6 linked regions of the Homo sapiens genome follow. The protein of the gene in region 1 purifies or fractionates together with the protein of each later gene. This does not show direct contact. Each region holds a gene or a part of one and is shown in the gene's direction. Other genes may lie near its edges.

Evidence for each region.
Region 2: the proteins of TFDP2 (region 1) and ARFIP1 purify together in Homo sapiens (affinity purification with mass spectrometry; one large-scale study listed by BioGRID and IntAct). This does not show direct contact.
Region 3: the proteins of TFDP2 (region 1) and CCNE2 purify together in Homo sapiens (affinity purification with mass spectrometry; one large-scale study listed by BioGRID and IntAct). This does not show direct contact.
Region 4: the proteins of TFDP2 (region 1) and MCIDAS purify together in Homo sapiens (affinity purification with mass spectrometry; one large-scale study listed by BioGRID and IntAct). This does not show direct contact.
Region 5: the proteins of TFDP2 (region 1) and TPRN purify together in Homo sapiens (affinity purification with mass spectrometry; one large-scale study listed by BioGRID and IntAct). This does not show direct contact.
Region 6: the proteins of TFDP2 (region 1) and EPHX1 purify together in Homo sapiens (affinity purification with mass spectrometry; one large-scale study listed by BioGRID and IntAct). This does not show direct contact.

Annotation. Positions count from the first base shown.
Region 1 is NC_000003.12:142,141,866-142,147,306, reverse strand, and holds part of TFDP2 (transcription factor Dp-2), read left to right. Parts: intron 1-5,441. UniProt on the Homo sapiens protein: Can stimulate E2F-dependent transcription.
Region 2 is NC_000004.12:152,883,093-152,888,533, forward strand, and holds part of ARFIP1 (arfaptin-1), read left to right. Parts: intron 1-5,040; coding exon 5,041-5,215; intron 5,216-5,441. UniProt on the Homo sapiens protein: Plays a role in controlling biogenesis of secretory granules at the trans-Golgi network. Mechanistically, binds ARF-GTP at the neck of a growing secretory granule precursor and forms a protective scaffold.
Region 3 is NC_000008.11:94,888,693-94,894,133, reverse strand, and holds part of CCNE2 (G1/S-specific cyclin-E2), read left to right. Parts: intron 1-14; coding exon 15-111; intron 112-189; coding exon 190-243; intron 244-1,164; coding exon 1,165-1,316; intron 1,317-3,583; coding exon 3,584-3,719; intron 3,720-5,441. UniProt on the Homo sapiens protein: Essential for the control of the cell cycle at the late G1 and early S phase.
Region 4 is NC_000005.10:55,217,842-55,222,408, reverse strand, and holds the end of MCIDAS (multicilin), read left to right. Parts: intron 1-9; coding exon 10-233; intron 234-1,282; coding exon 1,283-1,393; intron 1,394-1,602; coding exon 1,603-2,043; 3' UTR 2,044-2,845; downstream 2,846-4,567. UniProt on the Homo sapiens protein: Transcription regulator specifically required for multiciliate cell differentiation. Acts in a multiprotein complex containing E2F4 and E2F5 that binds and activates genes required for centriole biogenesis.
Region 5 is NC_000009.12:137,193,785-137,199,036, reverse strand, and holds part of TPRN (taperin), read left to right. Parts: coding exon 1-50; intron 51-5,252. UniProt on the Homo sapiens protein: Essential for hearing. Required for maintenance of stereocilia on both inner and outer hair cells. Necessary for the integrity of the stereociliary rootlet.
Region 6 is NC_000001.11:225,833,027-225,838,467, forward strand, and holds part of EPHX1 (epoxide hydrolase 1), read left to right. Parts: intron 1-5,441. UniProt on the Homo sapiens protein: Biotransformation enzyme that catalyzes the hydrolysis of arene and aliphatic epoxides to less reactive and more water soluble dihydrodiols by the trans addition of water.

The DNA of each region.
Region 1 (5,441 bases):
ATTTTAAATTGTAGTGGATTTTAAAGAGAATCAAATACACTCACCTCTTCATACTTAAATCCTTTCCGTTTTAATCTGGGATACATGACTCTAGGTGTGCGGCATGAATAGATATGAAAGTAGGCTTGTGAACTCTTGGAAATATTATGCAAAATTATGCATATTTGTATATTTTTTGGAGAGACTATTTATAGTGTCATAGTTTCTGAGGCAAAGATATTTGATCAATTCTTTTTTTTTTTTTTTTTGAGACAGGGTTTCTCTATGTTGCTCAGGCTTGTCTGGAACTCCTGGGCTCAAGTGATCCTCCCACCTCACCCTCCCAAGTAGCTGGGGTTATAGGCACACACCTCGCCATGTTTGGACAACTCTAATTTTTATAAAATTATTTCTTTCACTGAACTAGAAATTGTGTCCTCACTGTCTCTTCTGTATTGTGGGTTTTCAACTATTTGAAGATACTTATATTCCACTGAGTGTTAGAAAATATTCTCAGTCTTTAACCTCTGCTAGTGACTTTTGTGTCATTGTTTTCATTCACATCTCCTCACAGAACTCATAGCCCACTTGTGGATTTGTTTAGTTCATCCACATTCTTCTGACAAGCATGGTACCCCAAATTAGGTATTAACTAGTATAGAAGACTAAGTTACCTCTCTAATTTTAAAGCATGTACTTTAAGAGTAGACTTGCTTCTTTGGCAACCACATTACACTGTTACTTTATAATAATTTACTAGTTAAGAAGATTAACTTTGGGGCTAACCTTCCTGTGTTTAGATCCTAGCTCTGCAGTTTATCAGCTGGGTAACCCTGAGTAAGTTATGTAAACACTCTGGGCCTAAGTCTCCTCATCTCTAATATGGGGTTAATAATAGTGTCTATCTTACACAATTCTGAAGATAATTAATATATATATATAAGTCATTTAGAATGGGTTGTGGCATCCCAGTACTATGTATGTATGATACCTATTTTACTATTGGTTTCCTTGTCAACTAAAATTGTTGAATTATTTTGTTCATGCTCTCTCTGTTCTTAAAGTCATACTCTCTCAATTCTTTAATAGAATATTTTTTGGTAGGACTTTACATGTATCTATATTTTTATTTTGTAAGATTGCTTCTAGTCTGTTGACATTAAAAAAATCCTGATTTGGTCATCCAATAAATATCAAATCTATGCATTTGATAAACATACAAGTTTGATAATTTTGGCATTGCTTTCATGCAAATTTTTCACTAAAATGCTGTCTAGGCAGGGCTGAGGTCAGAGTTCTTTACCTGCTAAAGACCTCTCTTAAAGGTGATAAAAAATTTTATTATTAATTCTTTGGTTCAGGTTGGTCACCCAATTAGAAATTCAGCTAATTTTAATCATCATCTACCTCATATGTTTCCAAGTTCTCATAAGGAATATGTGAGGAACTTTGACAGTTGCCTTACTAAAACCCAGATTTTATATGCTTCGTTTTCTTTACCCTATCATTACTTGTCCTTAGTGAAACTATACTATATTCCAGTAGCATATGTTAATTACTACTTTTTTGTCTTTTTTTTCGGAAAAGGATTATTTATTTATTTATTTATTTATTTAGAGACAGAGTCTCTCTCTGTCACCCAGGCTGGAGTGCAGTGGCCTCCTGGATTCAAGCAATTCTCCTTCTCCAGCCTCCCGAGTTGCTGGGTCTGCAGGCGCTTGCCACCATACCCGGCTGATTTTTGTATGAGAAAAGGATTTTTTAATTCAAGTAAAAATGTGGAATGCTTTAAGAATTTGTGTGTCATCATTGCACAGGGGCCATGCTAATCTCTGATTTGTTCCCGTTTAGTATATGTGCTACTAAGGGAGCACTGATTACTACTTTTTCTAAGTGTTCACAAACTTCTCTTAGTAATGATGCTAGAATCATGTCTAAAATTACATCTAACTTCAGTGATCAATAGTTGGCAGGATCCCATTTCTCTTTTTTTGAACACGAGTACTACATTTTTCTGTCTTTAGTCTTCTGGCAACCTCTCCTGCTCACCATAGTTCCTAAATGATTGCCAACAGCTGTGTGGAATTTTATTTGGAGCAATATACCTTGTTGAAGGTTTACTTAGAGTAGTTAGGAACTGTCTTTTATCTTCATGTTCATATTGAGCTTTCATTTCCTCCAGTTCATTGATAAATTTATTAAATGCCCATTTTGCACAAGATATCAATGCTTGTTTTACTTGAGCCATCGGAAGAGAATTTTTCTTAATAAAAATGCCTGAAGCAAAAAGGTAATGTACATCTATTTCTCTCCATTCCTCCTATTGTTAATATTACCGTAGTCTGCCACCATTCCTTCTTTAGTGTACTGCAGTAATAGCTTCCTGTTAACCTTCCTTCTTCCAGTCCTTTTCTGTCTCTGGTCCTTATGTATGGCAGCCAAAGTTATCTTTGTTTTAAAAATGCATGTATGTTTTAAAAGTCGTTTCTGGGAGGTGCAGTGACTCACGCCTATAATCCCAGTGCTTTGGGAGGCCGAGGTGGGCGGATTGCTGAGCCCAGGAGCTCAAGACCAGCCTGGGCAACATGGTGAAACCTGTCTCTACTAAAAATACAAAAAGTAGTCAGGCTTGGTGGCATGTGCCTATAGTCCCAGGTACTCAGGAGGCTGAGGTGGGAGGATCTCTTGAGCCCAGGAAGTCAAGGCTGCATTGAGCTGTGATCGTGCCACTGCACTCCAGCCTGGGCAACAGAGTGAGACCCTATCTCTAAATAAATAAATAAATAAATAGGAATAAATAAATAACTAAGTATTTTCTTTCCTAGTGGCATAAGCTGTAATCTAATTAGAATTTGATTTCTGAGCATAGTACTTTCCAACTCCCTTTTTCTGTTTCCTCTTTACTGTCCTTTTAAATTCAAACCCCTCCACCCCTGCTGCCCCGCTTTTTTTTTTTTTGAGACAGAGCCTTGCTCTATTGCCCAGGCTGGCAGTGGTGCAATCTCGGCTCACTGCAACCTCCACCTCCTGGGTTCAAGTGATTCTTGTGCCTCAACCTCCCAAGTAGCTGGGATTATAGGCATGTGCCACCACACCTGGCTAATTTTTGTATTTTTAATAGAGACAGGGTTTTGCCATTTTGGCCAGGATGGTCTTGAACTCCTAACCTCAAGCAATCCACCTCTCTTGGCCTCCCAAAGTGCTGGGATTACAGATGTGAGCCATCGTGCCTGGCCATAGATCTCATTCTTTTTTATGGCCAAATAGTACTTCATTGTATGTATGTACCACATTTTCTTTATTCATTCATCTGTTAACGAACACTTAGGTTGCTTCCAAATCTTAGCTATTGTAAACAGTGCTGCAACAAACATAGGAATGCAGATATCTCTTCAATATACTGATTTCCTTTCTTTTGGCTATATACCCAGCAGTGGGATTGCTGGATCATATGGTAGCTCAATTTTTAGTGTTTTGAGGAACGTCCAAATTGTTCTCTGTAGTGGTTGTACTAATTTACGTTCCCATCAACAGTTTGAGAAGGTTCCCTTCTCTGCACATCCCCACCAGTATTTGTTACTGTCTGTCTTTTGGATATAAGCCATTTTAACTGGGGTGAAATGATAGCTCATTGTAGTTTTGATATGCATTTCTTCGATGATCAGCAATGTTGAGCACCTTTTCGAATGACTATTTGCCATTTGTATGTCTTCTATTGAGAAATGTCTATTCAGATCTTTTGCTCATTTTTTAATGGGATTATTTGATTTTTTTCCTAGAGTTGCTTGAGCTCTTTATATATTCTGGTTATAAATCTCTTGTCAGATAGGTAGTTTGCAAATGTTTTCTCCCATTCTTTGGGTTGTCTCTTCACTTTGTTGATTGTATCCTTTGCTGTGCAGAAACTTTTTACTTGATGTGATCCCATTTGTTTATTTTTGCTTTGGTTGCCTGTGCTTGTGGGGTACTGCTCAAGAAATTCTTGCCCAGACCAATGTCCTGGAGATTTTCCCCAATATTTTCTTCTAGTAGTTTCACAGTTTAAGGTCTTAGATTTAAGTCTTTAATCCATTTTGATTTGATTTTTTTTTTTAGACAGGGTCTTGCTCTGTTGCCCAGGCTGGAGTGCAGTGGCTTGATACCAGCTCACTGCAACCTCAGCCTCCCAGGTTCAAGCAGTTCTTGTGCCTCAGCCACCCAAGTAGCTGGGACTACAGGCATGTGCCACCATGCCTGGCTAATTTTTGTATTTTTAGTAGAGATGGGGTTTCACCATGTTGGCCAGACTGGTCTTGAACTCCTGACCTCAAGTGATCTGCTCGCCTTGGCCTCCCAAAGTGCTGGGATTACAGGCGTGAGCCACCTTGCCCAGGCTGATTTGATTTTTGTGTATGGCAAGTGATATGGGTCTGGTTTTTTTCTTCTGCATTTGCATATCCAGTTTTCCCAGCACCATCTATTGAAGAGACTGTCTTTTCCCCAGTGTGTGTTCTTGGCATCTTTGTGGAAAATGAGTTAACTGTAGGTGTGTGGATTTGTTTCTGGATTCTCTGTTCTGTCCATTGGTCTGTGTGTCTGTTTTTATTCCAGTCCCATGCTGTTTTGGTTACTATAGCTCTGTAGTATAATTGAAGTCAGGTAATGTGATTCCTCCAGTTTTGTTCTTTTTGCTCAAGATAGCTTTGGCTATTCTGGGTCTTTTGTGGTTCCATATAAATCTTAGGATGGTTTTTTCTATTTCTGTGAAGCATGTCATTGCCATTTTGATAGGGATTGCCTTGAATCTGTAGATTGCTTTGATAGCAGTATTGACATTTTAACAATATTGATTCTTTCAATCCATGAACATGGAATATTTTTCCATTTTTTTGGTGTCCTCTTCAATTTCTTTGATCAGTGTTTTATAGTTTTCATTACAGAGATCTTTCACTTCTTTGGTTATTACCTAGTTATTCAATTTTATGTGTGGCTGTTGTAAATGGAGTTACTTTTAAAATTTCTTTTTCACATTGTTCACTGTTGGCATATGGAAATGCTACTGATTTTTGTATGTTGATTTTGTATCATGTAACTTTACTGAATTTGTTTATCACTTCTATTAATAATACTTTTCTTGTGGAGTCTTTAGGTTTTTCCAAATATAAAATTGCATCATCTGCAAACAGGGATAATTTGACTTCTTCCTTTCCAATTTGGGTGCCCTTTATATCTTTCTGTTGTCTGATTGCTCTAGATAGGACTTCCAGTACTTTGTTGAATAACAGTAGTGACAGTGGGCATGCTTGTCATGTTTCAGATCTTTGAGGAAAGGCTTTCTAGTTTTTCCCCATTCAGTATGATACTAGCTGTGGGTCTGTCATATATGGCTTTTATTATGTTGGGGTGTGTTCCTTCTATCCCCAGTTTTTTGAGTATCTTAACTTCTTTGCAACATAAATATTTTATTTAAGACCTATATGTCC
Region 2 (5,441 bases), on another chromosome or scaffold:
AGAATCTAATTAGAACCCCTATGCTGGGTGCCTCTAGTACTTGATGCTGCCACAGCTACCATAAATAATTTCCTAAATACCCATGAATACTTGCTTCATTGCCTTGAGATTATCTAATTGAGCCTTGGTCATGTGCCCAAACCCTGCCTTCTAGTGAGTAGGGAAATGGAGGATCTCCCAGCTCTGGCTTCTTTAGAAGAGGACAGGGCCCTATGTTCTACCAGGTAGGTATTACATGGTCCTCTATACTCTCGCCTAAATTTACCTTTCATCCTTATTACCACTGCTTCCACAATAGCCAGACCCATACTTTCAGTTTCTATTGAATAAATAAGCTCATTTTGCCTCCATGATTTTTGTTTGTTAGGATATCAGTCATCTTCCATTTATCCAGATTATAACAAGCCTTCAAACCCTTTCAAATTTTACCTTTTATATAAATTAAATATTTGACTTGTATTTTGATAACTGTTCATAATGCAGTGTTTTTATACATCCTATTTTAATGGGTTTTTGTATATCCATATTCATATATATATGTATATATACAGTTTCCCTGTCTCATAACTATCCTGTTAAATGGTGAACAAAATATATATTAATAAATATATTAATAAATATTTTGAAGGGTCTAAAATATGGCAGACCTATAATAGCCTTTTTCACCTTTTGATTCCAGGCCCAATTTTTTCCCCATATGCCCTACCCCTTTTATTTAAGTATCATTCTAGTCCCTTTTGAGGTTTTTTTCTTTTGAGCACTCAAAATTCTTATTTTCCATTATACTTTTTATGCATAGTTGAAGATAAACTTTACCTTTTAGAAGGATAACTTTACTCTTTGGCCTCTTATCCTAGTTTAATGGTATGAGAAATACCTGTAAAAAACTCCAAACTCATCTAGTATTTTTGCAATTGAGTGCTTATTAAATATATATTTCCTTACACTTCAATTAAGTAAAAGCCCAAATCATTTTGAAAAGTTAATTTTTGATGTTTTCACAGGAAGAGATGCTTCTGTCCCATACCATGTTTATTTTGTCATTTTCCATTTAGTATTAAAGTATGAGATTCTTATTGACTTGAAAATGAAGGTCAAACAGCTGTGGTTGTATGGAGGGGTAAGGGTGAGGATAGCTGTTAGTAAGATAGCCTTCCGTGGAAATCTCTTCAATAACATTCTCAGTAATTGGTGTTTCAGTCTCAGTGTAAATCCTTTCATGGAAATTATATTTTTCAAAGGGTTCATTATGTATATGAATTTTAAAATTCATTTATATAAGTTTTACTTGATCCTTTTCTAAATTTTTCTGTTCCTTGTTCATAATGTCCTAATTTGTTCATAATGGTACTGTTTCTTTTATCTCTAATCATTTTAAATATTCATATTTTCTAGTCCTTCTGATTGTTTTAACATGTATGGGTTTTAAAGATGGATATTGTTTTCTTCCAAAAATACCCCCACCACCTCCTAGTTGAGAACTTTGTGAATCTAGTTTCTCTACTTTGCAATTGTCTACCTATCCTGAAATATATTTTCGTTAATAATAATCTCTTTCCCTTCAGCTTTTATTTCTAAACAGTTTATAATTAATTTGTAGAGGAGAAAACACTCTAGAGGTTAAATGGTTTGCTCACTTGTAGTCAATTTCAAAGGCAAAATAAGAACCCATTGGTTCTCTATGGTTCACATTTTATCAGTAGGCCTTATACCTGAGTATTAGTGCCCTAAGTATAATGTGGTATAAGATCTCAGATTATAAAATACAGTATATAGGTTCATTTGGAACTTTTGAACAAAATTATAAATCAAGTTACATGTACTTGGTGGCTGGTTTCTTAAGGGAAACCCTTACACAGCCTCTGTGTGTACTTTAAAAAACAACAACAGTAATGTTGTTTTTGTTTTATGTCATCCCGTAATTTATCCTTTTTTATTCAAATTACAATGTATGATCTTATTCATTAAGCTTAGCTTGGGGTTTGACTTTTCTGTTGTTTATGAAATAGCTGTGGAATTGGCTAGTTGTTAACACTAAAACCTTGCCTACTGATGGATAATAGTCAAAAAGAATCCAAGGTTAAAAGTTTTTCAGTAGCTGAATTTCCTTCTCTGTCAAAGCCAGAATTTACTGACTTTTAGGGCAAGGGTCATCTATTTGATCAGTGCAAAAAGTGGTAATTTAGGCAAATGCCCGAGTGGCCTTTTAATCCTCCCTATTATGCATTGTGTACAAGTATTTCCTAGCCCTCTGGTGCTTCATGTATAGAAAATCTTGTAACAGCCCATTCAACACTTCTCCACAGCAGCACCAACAAGGGAGTCAATTGTGGTCGAGACTTTTCAGATGTGGACACCTGTTCTCTAGAAGTTTTACATAAGCCATAAAGTAACCGTCACTAACTTTGTTGATACGGACTCAGTTCAGACGGGCAACCTTGAAGTGAAGTTGCTTTTTGAAAACTTAGTGAGCTTCTCTTCTTGGTGGTAATGAGCACTGTTAGAGAAGCTATTATGGAAAGTTTTACTTTGGTACCACCTACAAACTCTGAATGTAAAATTAAGAAATATAAGGTCAGTATTATAACTTTGAATATGTTTGAGTTAATCACTGTTGTTTAGAAATGCGCTCCAAGGCTATTGAAGGATATTTGTCCTTAGATTAAATCACCATGTATTACTATTTATTTAGTTCTACTTTTTTCTCTTTTATTTCCTATTGTTTTTAGTGTGCTTGCTTCTAGATACCCCTCTTCTAATTTGGCCATAATAATAAGCATTCTAAAGGTATCAGTTATTACCAGGTATCCTGTGTGTTTTATCTATATGAAGTTTTTGTGGAGATTTTTGTTCACATTTATAGATTGAAAAACTGGAGCACAAAGAGATGAAATAACCAGCTCAAGAATAGAGCCAAAAGGCAGAGAGGTCATTCAGCTTGGCTCCTGAACCCATGGATTTAACTAACTAGTTATTATTGCCAAGTCAGTCTTGCCTCCTAAATCTTTTGTATTTGTCTCCTTAGCTCCAATGCCTTTGTCCTGATTCAGTGACTCATTTCTTATATGTCCATCGTTTTCTAATAGGTTTCCTTGCTCCTGATTTTTTAATCATTTATTCTATCCTCCATCTCTTACACTACCACCAGGGTCATCTTTCTATCCTGATACAATCATGTCATTTTTATGTCAGATCAACATTCTTCAGTGGCTTCCCATTACTTCTCCTACTGGATTAAATTTAAACACTTTAACATGGCCTGTAGGGCTGCTTACTTTCAATCCTGCCTGCCTGTCTAATGTTAATTCCTTCCATTGTCATGTTCCAGCTTCAGATTCTGACATACCGAATTCCCAAATGTGTCATTGTATCTTACAAATCTATGCCTTTGTCCATGCTATTCTCTTCAGAATCAGAGTATCCTACTGATTTCTGTATCCCAATTCACCTAGCCAGCTTTTACCATCCTTCAAATTTTAATTATAGTATTTTAATTCTGTCTGAGATACCTTTTCAGATATCTAATTAAATAATTATTCCTCTTGATTTCCATTATACCTTACCCTCATTTATGGTAGTTCTTATTATCTCATTTTGTTGTAATTGTTTACAAGGTTCTCTTCCTCTAGAATGCGAGCTTCTTGAGGATAAACATATCTGTTCATCTTTATAGCTCTACTTTCTAACACAGTGCCTGGAACGTGGAAAGTGCTCACTTGAGAATTGTTGAATGAATCAGTGTATCAGTGAATGAATGAATGGTTCTCTTTTGACCCTGAAAGAGGCCAATTAAATTAAATCTTAACTCATACTGCTAAATTCAGTATGAGTTAAGAATAAATTAGGATCAGTGTGAAGGACTGATGTATTCTTTCTCAAGTCATATATACAATATAGATTATGTTATTTAAAGTATTGTTAATTCCCAGAATAGGAGATGTGAATTATACACCTAATATCTCCAAATAAAGAGCTTTAGTTTTAGGGTATAAGCTTTGTGATTCTGATCTTGACTAAATTAGAGGTCACTTTGCTTCTTCTTTGCTGAGTACCGAATAGTTGAAGCTGCTGGATAAATCACTGTTTAATAAGCAAGATAGTACTATACTTAGACAGGCACTGTGATAGAGCTATTATGAGGAGTTATGGGATCTTGGAGTGATGACAGTGGTGGGGTAACTATTTGAGTTGATGGGGGGAGAATATCAGAGTGAGGCATCTTACAGAACACAGGATGGTAAGTGCTCTACAATAGATACTGTTGTTACATTCTGAATACTGATGTTACAGAAATTCATCTAGAGTTGTGTTGTCAAGTATAGTAGCCACACATGTCTGGTGAGCACTTGAAATGTGGCTAGTCTGAATTGAGATGGGATAGAAGTGTAAAATACACAGTGGATTTCAAAGACTCACTACCCACTCTCCAAATGTAAAGTACCTATGAATAATTCTGTTACATTGATTACATGCCACAATGATTAATATTTTAGATATATTGGGTAAAATGAAATATATTGATAACAGGTGAAATTAATTATTATTTCATTGTAACTACTAGAAAATTTTAAATTACATGTGTTACTCACATTACATTTTTGTTGTGCATTGCTAACCCAGACTTTTTTCAGAACCATTTACACTTCCGTTAGTTTTAGTATGCCATTCTAGAGTCTGCTGTCCTTACCTGCTTTGCCTAATCAGTACTAAGCAATTCACTTGGGGTATTTATTCTACCCTTGATCTTGTTTTGACATTTATTTTTTTTAACTGGTTTTTAGATTTTGGAAATTTTACTTGTCAGTTAATACTGTGCTTTGAGAGAAATAGTTAATGAGATTAACCAGCAGCTTTGTTCTTATTTAAATAGCTCTTTGTTTTTAAAGAAATAATGATTTCAAAAGCGTCAAGTAGAATATGTGTGAGAATTTTATATATTTTATTGTATAGTATGAGACTGAATATTACGTATTTCCAACCCATTTTTTGAACATACTTTACTGTTCTTGTAGTATGCTTCACTTACTCTCTTCTTTCCAGGATTGAATATGATGCATATCGCACTGATTTGGAAGAACTGAATCTTGGACCACGTGACGCAAACACTCTGCCAAAGATTGAGCAGTCACAGCATCTCTTCCAAGCACATAAGGAAAAATATGATAAAATGCGCAATGATGTTTCTGTCAAATTGAAATTTCTAGAAGAAAATAAGGTAAATTCTTTACCTTCTAAGGTCTTTCTGTGGACTTTGAAGTCACCCTAAAGAGAGATAGTCAGTTTTTCTGTTTCTGTTAACTCTCTTGTATGACAATTGCAAGAAGGAATTCCATTTGTAATCAGTGTTTGAGTTTTTAGAAGCATACAAAATATATTTACCTTTCTTTGATAAAAGTTATCAATGCCACCGTCCCAGTCTTTCACATATAACACATGGCAAA
Region 3 (5,441 bases), on another chromosome or scaffold:
AAAATTCACTACAGTAGCCGTTTACAAGCTAAGCAGCAGCCCCAGCCCAGCCAGACGGAATCCCCCCAAGAAGCCCAGATAATCCAGGCCAAGAAGAGGAAAACTACCCAGGTGATTTAAGGAGAAAGAGGGAGGAACGAAATTCCATGCTGGGACTTTAGTTTACCAATGGTCTTTTCTATTTTCCAGGATGTCAAAAAAAGAAGAGAGGAGGTCACCAAGAAACATCAGTATGAAATTAGGGTAATGCAGAACTGGGCTGGGTGGGTTTGGGGGAAAAATGGAGGATAGATGAATAAGAATAGAATTATGTGTTTATTGCTTTGCGATAGATTCCTCTGACACTTTTACTTTTAATGCCCCTAGAGGTCAGCAGGAAGGCGCCTATCTTTGGGTGGTTTCTATGTGCCCGAATCCTACTACAGCTGCAGAATAAGTGCCTTCAAGCAGCTGGTTCCTTTTTGTAAATCCCTCCCTCTTGGAACTGCCTGGTGCACCAGGGCCCGCCTAATCTGTCCAATATACTGCTCTTTGTTCCCTCGCAGACTCTAGTAGACGGTCCTAATAGCTGCTTCTTGGGCATAAATAGGATGTGAGATCACTGACAGCCTGGCACGCAGCCCTTTGGTACCTCTTCTTCCTATGTGTTTTACAGAAAGCAGCACTTTGGAGATAGTGATTGCGTTTGAAACCAGCATTATTGGGAAAAGAATCGTTTAAGTAATCGATTCCATTTTTAAGGTTTTGCTTTCAAATATTCAAAAGTATCAGAGCACACTTTTTTTAAAAAGAGCTTATTTGAAAAAAAAAAAAAAAGGTCCCTGCTACTATTGCTAGATACAGAGAACGATTCTGTGATCTTGAAAGTGATTAGTATTTTAGACTGCAGATGCATTTTGTTATTACTGTCCTTCTTCGACACCTGGTGTCTTCTATTACCAGAATTGCATTTTGTTGTCTAAAACATCCTATTACTCTTTATAAAAATCAATATGAGCTATATGGCTTGTTTATAAAATGTGAATGTCAAATTAGCTATATTGCCATCTATGTTAGCTAAAATTATGATTCTTTAGACATATTAGCTTTCATTTATGAAAGATCCATTACAAAAACTAAGGTTTTCCTTGCACAAATTGATATTTTTCTTTTTTTTTATGACAGAATTGTTGGCCACCTGTATTATCTGGGGGGATCAGTCCTTGCATTATCATTGAAACACCTCACAAAGAAATAGGAACAAGTGATTTCTCCAGATTTACAAATTACAGATTTAAAAATCTTTTTATTAATCCTTCACCTTTGCCTGATTTAAGGTAAGAAAAATTTCAGTAATTTTATTTCAAAGATATAAAGTTGTGCTGATTTAATACATGGCACTATTTTGTCTTTTGCTTTCATAAAGTAGAAAAACGTGTAAAAATTGTTTACTAATATTTAATCATATGTCATTTTATCTGAGAGTAGTGCTGGTTGCAAATGATATGGGTATTTAAAACACTGATTCTATAAAATTATTTTCATTTGCTTGCTGAGTACTATAAAGACTTAACAGGACTGAATTAGTTTTTTGTTAAGATAGAAACATTTTTACATGTACAGCTTTTTCCTTTAAAATTTTTATTCGTGTTTCTTGCAGCTTCAACTCAAAGGAAGCTTTTCCAATTGATGTATCAACCCTATTTATTTCTTACCAAACTTAATAAGGTCTATACTTAATTCTTTTTTCTAGTCCATGAGTGTAACTAAGAGGTACAGCTTATACAAAACATGTACTGTATTAATTTATGATTGGCCTTAATAAGCAATTTAATGGAATCAGACACTTAAACTCACCAATCCCCCTTTCCCTGCATTCTGTCCCACCTTACCCACCCCATAGGTGATCCTGCTGTAGATGATCTATTTAGAGGTGATTGAGACTTCTCTTGACTGTGATCACATGCCTTATGTGTTTAACTTTTTTGTATTGCTCTTGAGAAAACATTTTTTTTCACTTTTAATTGCATTTATTTTAGTGCTGAATTTACTCCTGTGCCATAAGTTTTTGTTTCTTCAGTTTCTTCTGGGATATCTTTTTCTTCTGGGCAACCGCCTCTTCTGGTTTAGGAACAATTTGTTCCTTTTCACTAAAGATCATTTCGATGTGGCAGGGAGAGATCACGTGTGAGTTAATCCGACCATGAGCTCTGTAGGTCCGTTGGCACATCGTAGGTGCTTTGTTCACTTGGAGATGCTCAATGACCAGAGAATCTACATCTAAACTCTTAAGTTCAGCATTACTCTCTGCATTTTTAAGCATGTGCAGCAAAAATTCAGCACTCTTTTTGGGCCACCAACCTTGTGTCCAGTCCCACTGCTTGGCCTGGGTACACCTACCAACTCCACCATTGTAATGTCAGAATGGCACATGCTGTTTCTGTAAAGTGACATTTTAAAAATACTTCATGGTGTTTTTTTTTTTTTTTTTTTTTGGAGACAGAGGTTTGCTGTTGTTGCCCAGGCTGGAGTGCAGTGGCACGATCTCGGCTCACTGCAACCTCCACCTCCTGGGTGCAAGTGATTCTCCTGCCTCAGCCTCCTGAGTAGCTGGGATTACAAGCATGCCACCACGCCCAGCTAATTTTTTGTATTTTTAGTGGAGACGGGGTTTCACCATGTTGGCCAGGCTGGTCTCGAACTCCTGACCTTAAGTGATCCACCCACCTTGGCCTCCCAAAGTGCAGGGATTACAGGTGTGAGCCACTGTGCCGGCCACTTTGTGGTTTTTCATATATGCATACCCTTGATAGCCTGGGCAGTTTCACGAGTGTTCTTACAGTGAACACAAAGATTTGAACCTCTTGATTTGCATGATTTTGTGGGGTTTTCCAGGTAAAGTGAATAGCCAGCTATTTTCACAGATTACTTCAGACCACTTATGGGAAAAGCAACGTGGTTATCTTTTAACAGCAACCTTTGTAAAGTATAAATAAGTGGAACTAGAAAGCACTCCCTTGAAATCTGCAGGTTTGGATGATCATAGTCCAGGTTCCCACTGTGTTACTTCAGGCTTCTATTTATTCATGCAAAGGAAATTGTTTCCAAAAATTAAGGCAGAAGTTTTTTTTCTTATTTACTTTAAGAGCTTCTTCCAAGTTCTAATTAAAAGTTGCATTTCAATGTCTGAAAGTTGAATTTTATCTATGTGAAACAGAGTTTGTATATTACATGGATTGCACAATTTAAATTATGTTTTTTAGCCGGGCATGGTGGGTCACGCCTGTAATCCCAGCACTTTGAGAGGCTGAGGCAGGTCGATCACTTGAGGCCAGGAGTTCGAGACTAGCCCAGCCAACATGGTGAAACCCCATCTCTACTAAAAATACAAAAACTAGCCAGGCTTGGTGGCAGGCACCTGTAACTCCCAGCTACTTGGGAGGCTGAGGCACAAGAATCGCTTGAACCCAGGAGGTGGAGATTACAGTGAGCCAAGATTGTGCCGCTGCACTCTAGCCTGGGCCACAGAGCGAGACTCTGTCTCAAAAAAAAAAAAAAAAAAATATATATATATATATATGGTTTTTTTCCTCTCTTTCCATAGCTGGGGATGTTCAAAAGAAGTCTGGCTAAACATGTTAAAAAAGGAGAGCAGATATGTTCATGACAAACATTTTGAAGTTCTGCATTCTGACTTGGAACCACAGATGAGGTCCATACTTCTAGACTGGCTTTTAGAGGTATGTTACAGCAATACAAATTTCCTTTGTCTCTGTATGATGGAAACATATTTAGCTGTAAATGTGCTTTCTATGTACTCTCAAGAGTTTATTGTTCATCCCCAGGAAGCTGTCTTTTTTGAGGTACTTACTGTAGTTGATTGCACCCAAAGTGGAAAGTGACTCTATAAGAGTAAAACCATGACAAAGCTACTACATATAACTAAACCCAATTCAGAATTCCTGTTACCTGTGGATACTGCTGTGTACCAACCACTTTCTGGGTGCCACAGATACTCAAGGTGAATGGAATGTATAGTTGATTAGGTTTTGAATTATGCTATACAAAGTGAAGAACTAGAACTAGGCTTCAGGGCCCTCTGAAGTCTTTTTCTGTATTAACAAAATCATGATGATGAGGAATCCTGATTTCTATATCCTAAACCATAATGAGACTATGGATATCTGGAAGCTCTACGCCCTCTATTGTCCAGATACCTTCTCTTTATTATATTCTTCTATTCTTTTCCGAAATATACCATTAATTTAAAGGAATAGTGATCCTGAAGCCCCTATAGATTTGTGCCAGATTTTTCTCTCTTGTTTAGGTCCATTCCCTTTCCTCTGGATAATAGCTCTAAAAAAGTTTCTAAAATTATTATTAAGGAAATCATTACTTATGTTGATGACAAACTGATTTTTCCTCCAACTCTTGGATATTTGCTCTGTAGTCTGTCTTTAAGACAAGAGATGAAGCATTCTAAGGGAAAAAGACCATAGACTTTTTGGAGGAGGAACACATGGCAGAATAGATCTCAGAAGCTATCAGAACAGTTTTTAAGACTAAAATGTTATCCTTTTGCATCAGGTCATCTTTTTCCTTATTCTGACTAGAAGGAAAGATTGTATTTTAATTGTGGGCACAAGAAGGCATTGGGTTTTGACTTTTTCTGACTGTCTAGTGATCATGGAATCAACTTAAGCACAATTATGTTAATTTTTAATTTGTTTCCTTTTTGTTATACTGATATTCATCCAGTGGTTATCCAATTCAATTTGTTCCTGTTTTTACCTAAATATGATTATGTATGCAACAGCATACAGAATATATCAAATCCAGCAGTGTTAAACTCTATCTTAGTGTATTCTTCAGTCTAGGAATGCAAACTTGATTCAACATTTGAAAATCTATTAATTTATTACCTTAACAGTAAATAAGAAAAATGCTAAGATCTCAATAGATGCAAAAGACATTTTTTGAAATTCGACATTCTTTTTTTTTTTTTTGAGACGGAGCCTCGCTGTTGTCACCCAGGCCAGAATGGAATGGCACGATCTCAGCTCACTGCAACCTCTGCATCTCGCGTTCAAGCGACTCTCTTGTCTCAGCCACCCACATAGCTGGGATTACAGGCGCAGGCCACCACACCTGCTATATTTTGTATTTTTAATAGAGATGCGGTTTCACCCTATTGGCCAAGCTGGTCTTGAACTCCTGACCTCAAGTGATCCGCCCGCCTTGGCCTCCCAAAGTGCTGGGATTACAGATGTGAGCCACCGCACTCGGCCAGCAAAAGAGATTTTCTTAACTCATTATTAGAAACTCATGTGGCCAGGTGTGATGGCTCATACCTGTAATGCCAGCACTTTGGGAGACTGAGGCAGGCAGATCAGTTGAAGCCAGGAGTTTGAGACCAGCCTGGCCAACATGGCAAAATCCCATCTCTACTAAAAATACAAAAA
Region 4 (4,567 bases), on another chromosome or scaffold:
CTTCTCCAGACTCATCCTCTATGATGTCGCCTACCCTGGCCAGCGGAGACTTCCCCTTCTCTCCTTGCGACATATCACCATTCGGGCCCTGCCTCTCCCCGCCACTGGACCCACGGGCCCTGCAGTCACCACCGCTGCGCCCTCCAGACGTGCCCCCGCCTGAGCAATACTGGAAGGAGGTGGCGGACCAGAACCAGAGAGCGTTGGGAGACGCGCTTGTTGAGAATAATCAAGTAGGGACACTGGTCTGGCGACCAGGAATCCTGGGGCAGGGACAGGATATAGAGGGTGGAAGTGGGGTTTGCAAGGGAGAAGATGAGGTCCTGTGAGTCGGAACCAGTGGACTGACTGGTGGTTCACGTAGCTGCCATTGCTCCGGTGGCTCCACCTGTTTCCAAATTGGTTAAGTGGGAATAATTCTACCCCACCTGATTTTTATTTTATTTTATTAATTAATTTTTATTTATTTATTCATTTTTTTTTTGAGACGGAGTCTCGCTCTGTCGCCCAGGCTGGAGTGCAGTGGCATGATCTCGGTTCACTACAACCTCCGCCTCCCAGGCTCAAGCCATTCTCGTGCCTCAGCCTCCCAAGTAGCTGGGATTACAAGCGCATGCCACCATACCTGGCCAATTTTTATATTTTTAGTAGAGACGGGGTTTCACCATGTTGGCCAGGCTGGTCTGGAACTCCTGACCTCGGGTGATCCGTCTGCCTCAACCCCCAAAGTGCTGAGATTATGGGCGTGAGCCACTGCACCTGGCCATTTTATTTATTTTTAAAAATAGTTTTATTTGGGGGGATTTAGAGGTACAAGTGCAGTTGTGTTACATACATATATTGCATAGTGCCTGCCAGATTTTTAATAGGGACGCCAATATTTTTTGAAGGCTTTCTATGTGTCTGGCCCTGGACTTACCAATTTATACTTTTTCTTCCCACTTAATGCTCACAATCATTGAGCTAGATACTCTTACTAGCCCCGTTTTACAAGGAAATCAAGACATAGGATTGTTGAACTTCGGTGACAGAACCTAGATCTGCCTGTTGCCCAAGTCAGTACTCTTTATCAGCACGCTACACCGAGGATTAATGGAGATAAATTTTGTCCAAGTGCTTTGTTTTAAAAAAAAAGTAAATTGATTATTATTCTCACTAGCGTAAATGCCTGTGCGTCCCCAGTTCCTGATGAGACGTCAGGATCTGGGTTTGATTCATGCCAGATATGCAGACGAGACCCAGCACAGTACCTACCCCTGAATGTTTGGGTCTCCTCCTGCAGCTGCACGTGACATTGACCCAGAAACAGGAGGAGATCGCCTCGCTCAAGGAGCGGAACGTGCAGCTGAAGGAACTCGCCAGCCGAACCCGGCACCTGGCCTCGGTGCTGGATGTAAGTGGGGCGCGGGCGTGTGGGAACTGCAGCACGTCGGAACTGAACAGTTCAGTGCATCCCCGCCCAGCATCGGGACCCGTGGGGGCCCGGGAGAGGAGAGTACCGCTGAGTGCGTGGTGCGTAGCGCGCCTAGGTCACCTTTTGCACGCTCCGAACCCGGAGGGTCCGGCAGGCCCCAGGGCGGCGCTCTTCCCTGTCTTTCGTAGAAGCTGATGATCACACAGTCCCGGGATTGTGGGGCGGCGGCCGAGCCCTTCCTGCTCAAGGCGAAGGCCAAAAGGAGCCTGGAGGAGTTGGTCAGCGCTGCGGGGCAGGATTGCGCGGAAGTGGACGCCATCCTGAGGGAGATTTCCGAGCGCTGCGATGAAGCCCTTCAGAGCCGCGATCCCAAGCGGCCCCGACTGCTGCCAGAGCCCGCGAATACTGACACCAGGCCCGGGAACCTGCATGGCGCCTTCCGGGGGCTGCGCACAGACTGCAGCCGGAGCGCGTTGAACCTGAGCCACAGTGAGCTGGAGGAGGGCGGCTCCTTCAGCACCCGCATCCGCAGCCACAGCACCATCCGCACCCTCGCCTTCCCCCAGGGCAATGCCTTCACCATCAGAACAGCCAACGGGGGTTACAAGTTCCGCTGGGTCCCCAGTTGAGCTGTGATGTGGTCCCCCAAAACACTGCCCTGTGTTTCCACTGAAGTGCCTGGGGGCTTCCCAGAACTTTGCCTTCAGGTTGAATGCCACCCTGAAACACTTTTTCAGGAACAAAAGCATCTTGATACCGATGCATTGTAAATTTCTGCTACAAAACATTGTATAGCCCCTCCCCTTGTCACAGTGAAACTCTGTTTATATATGTATATGTCACATATGTCACAGCCAATTTTAAAAGTATTTATTTTTAGCAGCTTTGAATTATGTATTTTTAGAGCAGGGAAGGATTTAGAAACCATAGTTACTTTTATAATTATGTAATGCTCTAATATTATAAGAAGGAAAAGAAGGCTCTAAGAGATTAAGTAATTTCCTGCAATGGGAAACACTGGAACCTTTCAATCACTTTAACTAGTCACTTAAGGACTCTAGGCCCAGAAGCCTGGTTTCTGGGTGAATGTTTTTATACATCACTCAACTTCCCTCGTCCTAAAAGGACACCTAATTTTGTTACTATTGAAAATTTTTATTTTGGTGGCCAGAATACGAAATCGGGAGAGGTAACCCAAACAGTTGTCTTAGGAAAAGGCAGATTCTCAGAGGCAATGGGCTATCAACAAAATAGGTGCTAAGCACATTTGTTTGTAATGATCATTCATATAATTTAGAAGATTTATGGTAACAGTTTATATTCATTATCCATACAGTTCTATTTGTGCAAATAGAATAACCACCTATAAGCAAACAGTGTTAATGAGAAATATATATTGTTTTAAGAAAATAGCATATACCGCATGAAAAAGAGTGTTCCCTTTTTTTTTTTTTTTTTTGCCAGAAATCAAGTGTGGAAGTCTTGATCAAAGTAAAACTACCTATTTGAACTGCACAGATAAAACTGGGGTGCACAATCATATTTTACATTTCTTGGCTTGATTTATATAACTTGTAAGAAAAAGTTAACTATAAAAAGTCAGTGTGCCTTCACTTTGACTTGACTTCTATTCCCTTTTGTCTGGGATTCTTTTTCCTACTCATTTCTGAAATTATATGAGTGGCATATGTCAAGTAGTGATTTGTCCTGACCTTCACAGTTCTTAACATGAAGTCTACTTCTTGCACTTGGCGGCCCAGCTTGGGCACGTTTCCAGCTGTGTTACGCCACACTGCATTGCTGGTTCTGCCCTCTGAGAGGAGATATCAGGTAACAGGTGACTTGGCAGCGTGGCAGAACCTGCTCTTCCAGTTTGTCATGTATGTACTGCTATCTGTATTTAAATAGCCATTTAGAAACCAAAAAAAAAGCTGATAAAATAGACCATATTTCCTCATATTTTGTCTAACAAATGGACTCTTAAAAAGTACAGTGGATGGCCCAGAATTTTTTTTCATCAGCTCAAATATAAAGTTACCACAGTTCGGGATAAGAAAAAACAAAAAATCACTTCCCTCCAACCTCTTAACCTGTCCCCCAAAACAATCAGCTTGTCATGTCTTTTCCTCTCTCCTTAATGAGTATTCTTATAATGCTTTAATAACAAATAACCAAAAAGTTTTCAATATATAGGTTTTTTTCTGTATGTCTTATGACTGGAGTTTTTAAAATTACATTTCTTCCTGCCTTTAAGATTATATCCCTGTAATTGTCATGTTAGCCATTGGTAACTTGAACTGCTTAAGTATCTTTCACTTCTGAGGCAGGGGTTGGGGTGGGAGGTTGGAGGTTGGGGCGTCATCTTGTGGACTAATGGCACAAGTGACTAAATTAGTTAGCAGTAGTAGAATTTACAAATTAGATTCATTTGTTTATTTAACAGATATTTATTGATTATTACCGAGAATCTTAGTAATACAGATACTAAGTAAACAGCAAAATAACAAAACACAAAAATCTTGCCCTCATGGATCTTACTTTCTCCTGGGAAGACATAACTACCAAACAAATAAATATATACATGCTATGAAGAGTAAGGATAGAGAATTAGATAATTCTGTGTGTGGCATGATAAGAAATACATATTTGGTCTTTGTCTCTGGTTCCTGGCTTCTGGCTTCTAAAATCCTTGGACTCTAACCAGTGATGAGTGCCATCTTGCTATGTTTCCCAGGCTGGTTTTGAACTCCCAGCCTCAAGCAATCCTCCCTTTCCGCCTCAGCCTCCCAAGTGGCTGGGGTTATGGGCCTGAGCCACTACACAGCTAAGAGTGTCTTGTATGTGCTAATGAGATGGCTGGTGTCTGAGAGCCCCTAGAGAGCTTCAAGATGGGGGCTAGTCTTTAGAAAGTCCAAGCAATGGCTAGGTATGGTGGCCACTGCCTGTAATCCCAGCAGTTTGGGAGGCCAAGGTGGACAGATCACCTAGGAGTTTGAGACCAGCCTGGCCAACATGGCGAAACACTGTCTCTACTAAAAAGACAAAAATTAGCAAGACAAAAATTAGCTGGGCTTGGTGGTGAGTTCCTGTAGTCCCAGCTACTTGGGAGGCTGAGGCAGGAGAATCACTTGAACCTGGGAGGCAGAGGTTGCA
Region 5 (5,252 bases), on another chromosome or scaffold:
TGGCCCTGCAGAAGTCCTGCCTCACCAAGGCTGGCTCCTCAAGAAAGAAGGTCAGTGGTGGGGGCAGGGCCACTGGCTGGCAGGGAGAGAGTGACAGCTCACAGAACTGTGGGGGCAGCACCTGCCCTGATCCCAGGACGCTTGGCCTGGGCAAAGGATGGTTTCTACATGGACTTGAGGCGAGCTGGGGCTGGGTGGGCCGTGCTGGGTCCAGGGCCCCAGTGGAGCCCCCTGACTTGGGCCGTGGGGACAGCTGGCCTGCTGTGTGCCTTGCCAGGCTGCTGGAGAGCGACAGGGCAGACAGTGCTATGTCCCTTGCCAGTTGTTGTGGCTCATCTGGAATTAGCTGGGCGGGTCTGTCCCTTTGTGAGTCCAGCTGAAAGAAGCAGACCTGGGCTTGTGGGTTCCTCCCTGGGCTTGGCTTTGAGGGGTGGCCTCACATGGTCTCCTGGAGGCCCGCTGCATGGGCGCCAGGCGCCACGCTATGAATGGGAAGGGCCAGATGATCGGGGTTGGCTGGATCCTCGCATCACAGTCAGCCTTGGGGTGCAGCCCACCAGCCAGTTGGGAGAGGGCCATCAGCTCCCCAGAAGGCACACTGGTTGGGAGCTGGGCAGGAGTGCCGTGTATGCCTGTTCTGGGCCTGGGAAGCTTGCTGGGGAGAAGGGGCCTTCGGAGGCTCTGAGCCAGCCAGGCAGGGGAGTCTCCCTCTTGGCCAGTGGCCTGGAATCCTCTGGGCACAGGAAAAAAAATCTTCAGATTCTTTCTGGTAATTCCTGCACCTGTATTTGTTCCCTGGGGCAAATTCCAAGGGCAGCTCCATGTGACTTCCCGGTCTGCGGTGACCTGTCAGGAAGCAGGTGTACCTTTCCTGGGGACTGAGGGGGGGCGCCTGGGGCGCCTCCCTTGGGTCTTCCTATCCAGGCACTGCCCCAGAGCCATTGCTGGCTAGGCTCACCCCTGAGGCGGGCTGTCCTCCAGCCTCAGTTTCCCCAGGCTGGGGATGGGACCTTGCAGGCTCCCTCAGCAGATAGGCTGCTGCCTCCCTCTGTTTGCTTCCTGCCCGGGATTGGCCTTGGCATTGCGCCTCTCCCTGTGCCATACTCCCCTCCTGGAACCAGGGCGTTGGTGCCCCTGCCGGCTCTATCTGCCGGCCCAGGCATCCGTGCTAACCCTCCTGAGGTGCTTCCAGTGGGGGCTTGGGGCTGGGTCCAGGGCCCCTCCCACTCCTGGAGCCACGTGGGTCTATCTCCCCGACCCTCGCCCGAGCATCACCCCAGCCCATCAAGGTGGGGTCAGTCTGATAGCCACAGCCTCTCTCCTCCAGCTCCTGTCTGCCTCTCCCTCCCCTGCGTCTGTACCTTTGGCCCTGGCTGCTGTGTGAGGTGGGCACCTCCTGGGCTTGCCCCAGAGGTGGCAGTGGGGACAGCTCCCCCTTTGTAGAGAGAAACTGCGCCTCAGCTTGGGAGTCAGACGGGGTCATGGGGCTTGTGGGGCGAGTACGGAGTTCAGGTTTCTGTTTCTAGAACCCCTCCCCTTAACCTGTGTGGCCATCCCTGGGAGCCTGGCTTCTTCCTGGGACTTGAGGCCACTGCCTAGAGTCTGGCCATCTTGCCCTCAGAAGGGACAGAACTGGGCTGGGCGCGGTGGCTCACACCTTGTAATCCCAGCACTTTGGGAGGCCGAGGCGGGTGGATCACGAGGTCAGGAGTTCAAGACAAGCCTTGCCAAGGTGGTGAAACCCCGTCTCTACTAAGAAGATATAAAAAAATTAGCTGGGCGTGGTGGCGGGCGCCTATAATCCCAGCTATTCAGGAGACTGAGGCAGGAGAATTGCTTGAACCCGGGAGGCGGAGCTTGCAGTGAGCCGAGATCGCGCCATTGCACTCCAGCCTGGGCGACAGAGTGAGACTCTGTCTCAAAAAGAAAAAAGCAAAGAAGGGACAGAACTGTGGGGGTCATTTGCGGCTGGGTTAGGGTCAGAAGGGCAGGGTGGGGGCCGGAGGGCCAACAGGAGCAGGAAGATGCAGTGGGGGAGAGGCTGAGCCTGGGAAACAGGCCCTGGACCAGCAGGAGGGAGGAGCTCGGGCCAGCCTGAAGGGGTGGGGGTCCAGATGGACGATACCTGGCATGGCCAGGTGGCCCGGGCAGGGCCCTGCCAGAGCAGCATGACCTGCTGGCTGTGACTTCCCGCCTGGGTACAGGCCAGCTGCCCTGCCTGGGAAGAGCCAGAATGTCCATCAGGAGGGGACAGAGGCGTGGGGCTGCCCTGCCTTTCAGAATGGCTTGCTGGCCTCGGCACGGTGGGCTGTGGGGCAGGGCTGTCCCATGTACTCTGTGGCCCCTGGGCCAGGAGCACTCACTGGTGGGGGTGCGAGGTGCCCCTGCGGGTCCTGTGCCTGGCCTTGTCTGACCACCCTGGCCAGCCTTTTTTTATTTTTTGTTTTTTGAGACAGAGTCTTGCTCTGTCGCCCAGGCTGGAGGGTAGTGGCAGGATCCCGGCTCAGGGCAAACTTCATCTCCCAGGGTTCAAGCGATTCTCCTGCCTCAGCCTCTCAAGTAGCTGGGATTACAGGCGCCTGCCACCATGCCCAGCTAATTATCGTATTTTTAGTAGAGACGAGGTTTTACCATATTGGCCAGGTTGGTCTCGAACTCCTGACCTCAGATGATCCGCCTGCCTTAGCCTCCCAAAGTGCTGGGATTACAGGCGTGAGCCACCGTGCTGACCCCAGCCTTTGGTTGGGACCACTGGCTGTGACCCCCGGGCGTGGGGGTGGAGTGCAGGGATTGCAGGGCCCGGAGTCTAGCAGGACCTGACTGTGGGCCAACGGCTCACTGTGCACCTCAGCGGCTGGCGGTGCTGCTGCTTTTCCTGGGGTACAGGTGAAGGGCAGCTCTTCAGTGGAGTTGTCTGGGTGGTGGGAGTCGGTGAGGGGCCTGCCCCAGGGCTGGCTGTGCCTGCACAGGGTATGATACCCTTGCCCGCCTCCGAGGGGTGCAGCCCTGCTCTGGGCAGTGGGGAGCTGCTGGCCTGTGTGCCGGGGTGGGGGCCTGCCTGGCAGGCACAGGCCCACTTAAGTTATCCATTGGCAGAAGCGGCAGGTGCCCCGTCTTGCAGGGCTGAGCTTGGAGCAGACTGCTGTGTGCTGCAGCCACGCCCGGGCTGCTTTCCTGGAGGGTGGGACACCCATTCTCATCCTCACACCTGCCTCCCTTGAGACTCGGCGCTGTAGCTTTTCCTCTTCGTGGAGCACCACCTGGCCTGGCTCCTACCTGTCTGGCGGCCCCTTCCCGTCCCCTCTGCCCTACTCCCCTCCTCCCCTCTTGGCTCTCTGCCCAGCTGGAGCGTGTCAGTGTCCCCAGGGCTCAGTCCTGGACACCCAGGGCCGTCCGCCCTCACCTGCTGTGCAACTTCCGCCTCCACTCCCAAGGCCTCGCTCTCTGATCCTTAGACCCAAGAGCCACCCTGACATCTGCCCTTCCTACTGACACCACCTCCTGGCCAGCACCAAGCCCCAGGCTGGGCTCCTCCCTGCCTCTACCCCTGTGCAGGCAGATCCTGGGTGGCCAGAGGCTCTCACTGTTGTTGGCTGAGTCCCTTCTTGTCAGTTTTCCTTTCCTTCTCGTCTCTCCGCCAGCTCTTCCCATAGGTGCCGCCTAGGTGGTCCTTCTGAAGCCGGGAACCCCAGGAGCGGCCTGGACGCTCCTCCCTCAGCTTTCTCATGGGTGGAGGCCGTGCCTGGCGCTGGGGCCACACTTGACTCAGGGAGCACCCAGCTTCCCGGGAGCCTGCTCTGGGCATTGCACTCGTGCAGCCTGGTCTAGGGTCCGGCCACCCGTGGGAGCCTTGGCTGGGGCTGCGTGGGGGATGGGAGGCAGGTAGCTGTGTGCAGGGAGGAGGGAGAGGCGGGGCTGGGCTCAGCTCACACCTCCATCTGGGCAGGTTGGGGCTGGCTGCTTGGCCCTTTGTCCCAGGTGGAGGCCAGGCCCTTTGGTAACCAAAGCTAGGTGTGCACAGGCAGGGTGGGTGGAGCGAGAACAGAAGGGTCCTGAGAAGCCGGGAGGCTCTGCTGGGAGGCTGGGCTGAGCTGGGACCCACCTGCCTGCTCTGTTGGCTGTGCCAGGCAAAGTCCCTGATAGGCTGCGGCCAGGTGCGTGCGGTCCCAGACCCTGGCCACACCCTCTGCCCATCCTGCGTCTCGGGGTCTTCAGGCTGCCCACCGTATGAGTCACGGGGTGTCCTGTCCCCACAGTGGGAGGGGAGGGCTGTGCGAGTCAGCAGGCACCAGCCCAGCTGAGGAGACCTGGGGAGGCAGGACGTGACCAGAGCCCCGGGCCCCAGCTGAGGGCAGACAGGGGCTGCCTGTCCACCCCCCGCCCCGCACCGCCTGGCCAGGCTGTACCAGGCTCAGGGCCCATGTGCACCCAGCCCCCGCGGCCCCCCTGCTGGGACCGGTCATGTGCACGAGTGAGGGCACTAATCCCGCGGCCCTGGCAGCCAGCCCTTCTGTGTTCTCAGCCGTGGGGGCTGGGCCTGGAGGGCTTCGGGGTCATCTGGGTTAGCTCCACATATCCAGGGCGACTGGAAACCCCATTTGCTGCTGGACTTCGGGGCTGTGGGAGAGCTCTAGCCACCAGCCCTGTCCTGCCTTGAGCACCTCCACCTGGGGTATCTGTCCCAAAGCATGAGTCTGGGAGGGCCGGGTGACCCCCTCCCCAAGTGGGCTGGCAGTGGGTGGGTGCCTGTGAGGTCTGTCCCAGCCTCTCCCTGCCTGGCCTCCTGTGGGATGAGCGTTGGAGGGCCAGGTGGGCCTAGCCACAGGCAGGGCAGTTAAGGGACAGGAGCGGGTGCTTTCCTCCTTGTTTTGTCTGGCCCAGGTGGCCTCCCCCTCCCCCGCTCATCCATGCAGACGGCTGGGGTGCCGGGGCCTGGGGTAGGGGTGCAAGCAGGCAGCTGAGTTGCCCAGCAGGGCTCTGTGTGAGCTGTGCTGAGAGGGGAAGCTGGGGGTTTGGGCACAAAGCGTGGCCCCCCAGCTGTGGGAGGCGGGGGTATTCGTGGTGAGAAGGGACCTGAGGGTACACCTGGCTGTGTGGGCCGTGTGGCCGCTGTGGGAGAGAGCATGATGGCAAGAGTGTGTGCCCTTGGCCCTGTCCTGGCAGCCCTGTGTGGCCTCCTCGGCTGCCTCCTGAGAGGCCGTCTCGTCCTGTGCCTGGCTGCGGTGGTTCTCTGCCTGGGGCCCGGCTCCTGC
Region 6 (5,441 bases), on another chromosome or scaffold:
GCTGGAGTGCAGCGGCTATTCACAGGCGTGATCATGGCTCACCACAGCCTCGAACTCCTGGGCTCAAGCAATCCTCTCGCCTCAGACCTCCTGAATAGCTGGTACTATAGGCGAGCACCACTGTGCCCAGCTTGTTAATTTTTTATATTGAAGAAATTGTACATGTTAGGAATCTTATTTTTAATGTTTTAAGATAATTTGGCCTTTTCAAGGAACAGTGAAGATTTTAATTTGTTAAAATTCTAGGAATTACTTAAAGTGTATGAAAGACATGTTGGTCAGTCAGATAAACTAAAGTTCCTAAAAAAAGGAAATTGAAATTATAGTGTTAACTGGGTGTGGTGGCATGCACCTGTAGTCCCAGCTACTCAGGAGGCTGAGGCAGGAGGATTGCTTGAGCCCAGGAATTCAAGGCTGCAGTGAGCTACAAGGACACCACTGCACTGGGTGACAGATCAAGACCCCATCTCTTAAAAAAAGAGAGAGAGGCTGGGCACGGTGGCGCACGCCTGTAATCCCAGCACTTTGGGAGGCTGAGGCAGGTGGATCACGAGGTCAGGAGGTTGAGACCATCGTAGCTAACACGGTGAAATCCTGTCTCTAATAAAAATACAAAAAATTAGCCAGGTGTGGTGGCGGGTGCCTGTAGTCCCAGCTACTCGGGAGGATGAGGCAGGAGAATGGCGTGAACCCAGGAGATGGAGCTTGTGGTGAGCTGAGATCACACCACTGCACTCCAGCCTGGGCGACAGAATGAGACTCTGTCTTTAAAAAAAAAAAAAAAAAACAGGCTGGGCGCCGTGGCTCACGCCTGTAATCCCAGCACTTTGGGAGGTCAAGGCGGGCAGATCACAAGGTCAGGAGATCGAGACCATCCTGGTCTAACTTGGTGAAACCCCGTCTCTACTAAAAATACAAAAAATTAGCCGGGCGTGGTGGCAGGCGCCTGTGGTCCCAGCTACTTGGGAGGCTGAGGCAGAAGAATAGCGTGAACCCGGAAGGCGGAGCTTGCAGTGAGCCCAGATTGCGCCACTGCACTCCAGCCTGGGTGACAGGGCAAGACTCTGTCTCAAAAAAAAAAAAAAGAAAAAAAAAAAAAGCCGGGTGCGGTGGCTCACACCTGTAATCCTAGCACTGTGGGAGGCCGAGGCGGGTGGATCCCAAGGTCAAGAGATCGAGACCATCCTGGCCAACATGGTGAAACCCCGTCTCTACTAAAAATACAAAAATTAGCTGGGCATGGTGGCACGTGCCTGTAGTTCCAGCTACTCGGGAGGCTGAGGCAAAAGAATTGCTTGAACCAGGGAGGCGGAGGTTGCAGTGAGCCGAGATCGCGCCACTGCACTCCAGCCTGGCAACAGAGCAAGACTCCATCTCAAAAAAAAAGGGAGAAAGGAAGGATGGACGGAAACCTCGACTTGGAGGTGCCAGGGCAGCAAACATCCTTGTTCTGATGCAAGCAGGCCAGGCCTGTGGGAGAATGAGCCAGAGAAAAGCTAAGTCAAATCCCAGTGGTGTGTGTCCTGGAACTAGAGCCCATCCTGGAGCTCAGCCAAGAACACTAAAAAAAAAAAAAAAAAAAATCTGGAATGATTTTTTGGATCAAATTTGGACTTCTCTTGAGTGTTGCTGTATTCTTTACAGTAATTTGATATCTTCTATTATGAGCCTAACAAGAGGATCCAAGCCACTTAATCCCAGCCAAACTGCTGTATGCAATTACCATAGGTTCCTGTTTGGATTCCTGGCACGAAATTGCCTGGCTTCCTTGAGTTTGACTTGGATCCCTGTGTTGTCCCAGCTCTTCAGTGTCCATCCAGCAGAAACTAACAGGGCGCCTGCTGTACCCAGGCATTCTGCTGGGGCTGGGGACGCATAGAGAGGACAGGGTCCCTCCTTCACAGCTCATAGGCTCTTCAGGGGCAATTCCAGCACATAGTGGCGGTGTTCTGAAGGAGGAGGCTCTGGGAGCTTCATGAGCCCCACAATCTTCCTTTGAATGTGAGGGAAGGCTTCCTGGAGGAGGTGGCATCTAAGCTGAAATGAGTGGGACTTTGCCAGGTGTGTGGGGAAGGTGGTCCAAGAAAGGGGAACAGCATGTTCAAAGGCCCAGAGGCAGGAGGCAGTAAAGGGCCCTTTCCATCCTGGCAGCTGCCAGCCTTACCCCACTGGACCCTTTCAGGGTTCTTCATGAGACTGGGTTTTTTTTAGAGACAGGGTCTCACTCTGTCAGCCAGGCTGGAGTGCAGTGGTGTGATCACAGTTCATTGCAGCCTCAATTTCCTGAGCTCAAGCGATCCTCCCACCTCAGCCTCTCAAGTAGCTGGGACCACAGGTATGCACCACCACACTAGGCTTTTTTTTTTTTTTTTTTTTTTCTTGAGACGGAGTCTCGCTCTGTCACCCAGGCTGGAGTGCAGTGACGCAATCTCGACTCACTGCAAGCTCCGCCTCCCAGGTTCACGCCATTCTCCTGCCTCAGCCTCCCGAGTAGCTGGGACTACAGGCGCCCGCCACCATGCCCAGCTAATTTTTTGTATTTTTAGTAGAGACGGGGTTTCACCGTGTTAGCCAGGATGATCTTGATCGCCTGACCTCGTGATCCACCTGCCTCAGCCTCCCAAAGTGCTGGGATTACAGGTATGAGCCACGGCACCCGGCCTTTGTTTTTTCTTTCCTTTTTTTTTTTTTTTACATTTTTAGTAGAGACAAGGTCTCACCATGTCACCCAGGCTGATCGCAAACTCCTGGGCTCAAGCAATTCTCCCACCTTGGCTTCCCAAAGTATCAGGATTATAGGTGTGAGCCACCACACCCAGCTGACATTGGGCATTTATGGTACAAAACCTCCCTCAGGTACAACGGCTCCAAAAGAGCCAGTTTCCAGCATTGAATTCATCGTGGACTTACCCATGTGTGGTTCTGGCACCCTGCCCGGGGCTGGAGGCCTGTTCTTGGCCTTGGTCCTTTAGAATAGGAGTAAATTTGGCAACATAGGAGGACACCCAGGATACATTGTTAAGTTAAAAAAAAAGAGATTCTAAAATAGAATGTATGTATGGTTCTATTTTTGTTAAAAGTTATGTTCTCTAAGTCTTTTTAAAAAGTTTGAACTGTCACAGCCAAGAAGGGTCTAAAGAGACATGACAGCTCAGTGGTGTGTGAGTCCTGGATGGGATCCTGGAACAGAAAATGGATATCAGGGGAAAAACTGAGGAAATCTGGCTCATATTTTGTTGTGTGTAGATACCAGCATTATCCAGGTTTTAAAAAGGAGAAAATCCTGGCCGGGTGTGGTGGCTCACGCCAGTAATCCCAACACTTTGAGAGGCCAAGGTGGGAGGATGGCTTGAGCCCAGTAGTTTGAGACCAGCCTGGGCAACATAGCGAGACCCCTTCTCTACAAAAAAAAATAACAAAAATAGGCTAGACATGGTGTTGCCCACCTGTAGTCCCAGCTACTTGAGAGGCTGAGGTGGGAGGATCACTTGAGCCTGGGAGGTTGAGGCTGCAGTGAGCCGTGATTGTGCCACTGCACTTCAGCCTGGGCAACACAGTGAGACCTCATCTCTAAAAGAAGAAGAAAAAAAAAGGAAATCCTGCAATGTGTGACAACATGAATAAACTCTGAGGAAATAATGCTAAGTGAAGTAAGCCAGGGACAGGACAAATACCGCATGATTCCACCTATAGAAGGAATCTGAAATAGTCAAACTCAGCAGAAGCAGAGAGGAGAAGGGTGGTTGTCAGGGGCTGGGGAATAGGGGAAACGGCATTGCTGATCGTTGCTGTGTAAAGTTTGAGTCCTGCCAGCCGAATACATCCTAGAGATGGGCTGTACAGCAGAGCGCCGTCAGTGTTGGACACTTACAATCTGTTAAAAGGGTAGGACCCATATTAAGTGTTCTCGCCATATAATAAAAAGTGTAAACACTAAGGAAATCAATGGACTTTATAGTTAATAATATCTCAGTCTGGTTCGTTAATTGTAATAAATGTACCATGCTAACATAAAATATTAATAATGGAGGAAACCCGGTGGGTGTGAGGTATATGGGAGTTTTCTGGATTCTTTGCAGTTTTTCAGCAATCTAAAACTGTTCCAAAATAAAGTTTAGACAGACAACACCATGTTTTCTTTAGAGAGTGGGATTACATGTGAGTCTTCCCCCTTTGGCTTATCTGTGTTTTCTAAGTTTTCTACAGTAAACATGTATTATTTGTATAATATATTAACGACAGAACAGAACATTAGCTAGACCATGCTGACTGCACCAGCCCTGGTGGCAGAGAGTTCCAAGCATGGCAGCCGCCCTCACTGTGAATGCCGTAAGGCCCCAGGTGCTGTCCAGGGCACTGGCCTGGGAAGGGGCTGCCTTCTTTTGATATGCAGAGGCCCCAAGTCAGTCCAGAGGAGACAAGAATCCATTCACCTGCCCTTGGCTATGATGATGTTTTCAGCATTGCACTTAAAAAAAAATCTTCCACTTTATTTTATTTTAATTTTTTGAGATGGAGTCTTGCTCTGTTGCCCAGGCTGGAGTGTGGTGGTGTGATCTCGGCTCAGTGCAACCTCTGCTTCCCAGGTTCAAGCGATTCTCTTGCCTCAGCCTCCCGAGTAGCTGGAATTGCAGGCGCCTGTCAGCATGCCCGGGTAATTTTTTTGTATTTTTAGTAGAGACGGGGTTTCACCATGTTGGCCAGGCTGGTCTTGAGCTCCTGACCTTAGGTGATCCACCCGCCTCAGCCTTCCAAAGTGCTGGGATTACAGGCGTGAGCCACCACACCAGGCCCAAAAATACTCCACTTTAAAGAAAATATCATTTGGTAATCAGAAAAAGGTGACATTTTGTCAATGTGTATGAAAAAAATTATGCATTTAATACCTGTTCATTGTAGAAAAATTGGAAAGTACATAAAACTCAAAGAGAAATTAAAAGCACTGGAATCTACTGCTCAGGAGAACTGCTTTTTACATTCTTGGAGTTTATCCTCCCAGACTTTTAAAATTCACCAATACATAGTATAAGTACAGTATAAGCATAGATGACTTTTTATAAAAACTGGGTCACACAATGGATATGACTTGATCATTTGCTTTTACCTCCCAGCAATATCTTCTGATCAGTTTTCTATGTTAAATAAATATACATCTACCTTGTCAGTTTAGATGACTGTACTGGACTCCAGTATACTGTCAAACTATACTTGATTAATCCTGTATTGCTGGATACGTGGGGCTTTCTCCCTACCCTCCAGATTTTAAATTATTGAACAAGTATTTATGGAGGCCTGCTGTGAGCCAGGAGCTGTCCTGAGCCCTGGAAACCCAGCAGTGGCTGTACAGACCTGGCCCAGCTGTCAGGGGGCACCTCTAAGGAAACCGGGAGGCAATAATCGTAGCTCCCTTGCAGGGAGGTTGTGAAGGCTGAGTGAGGACA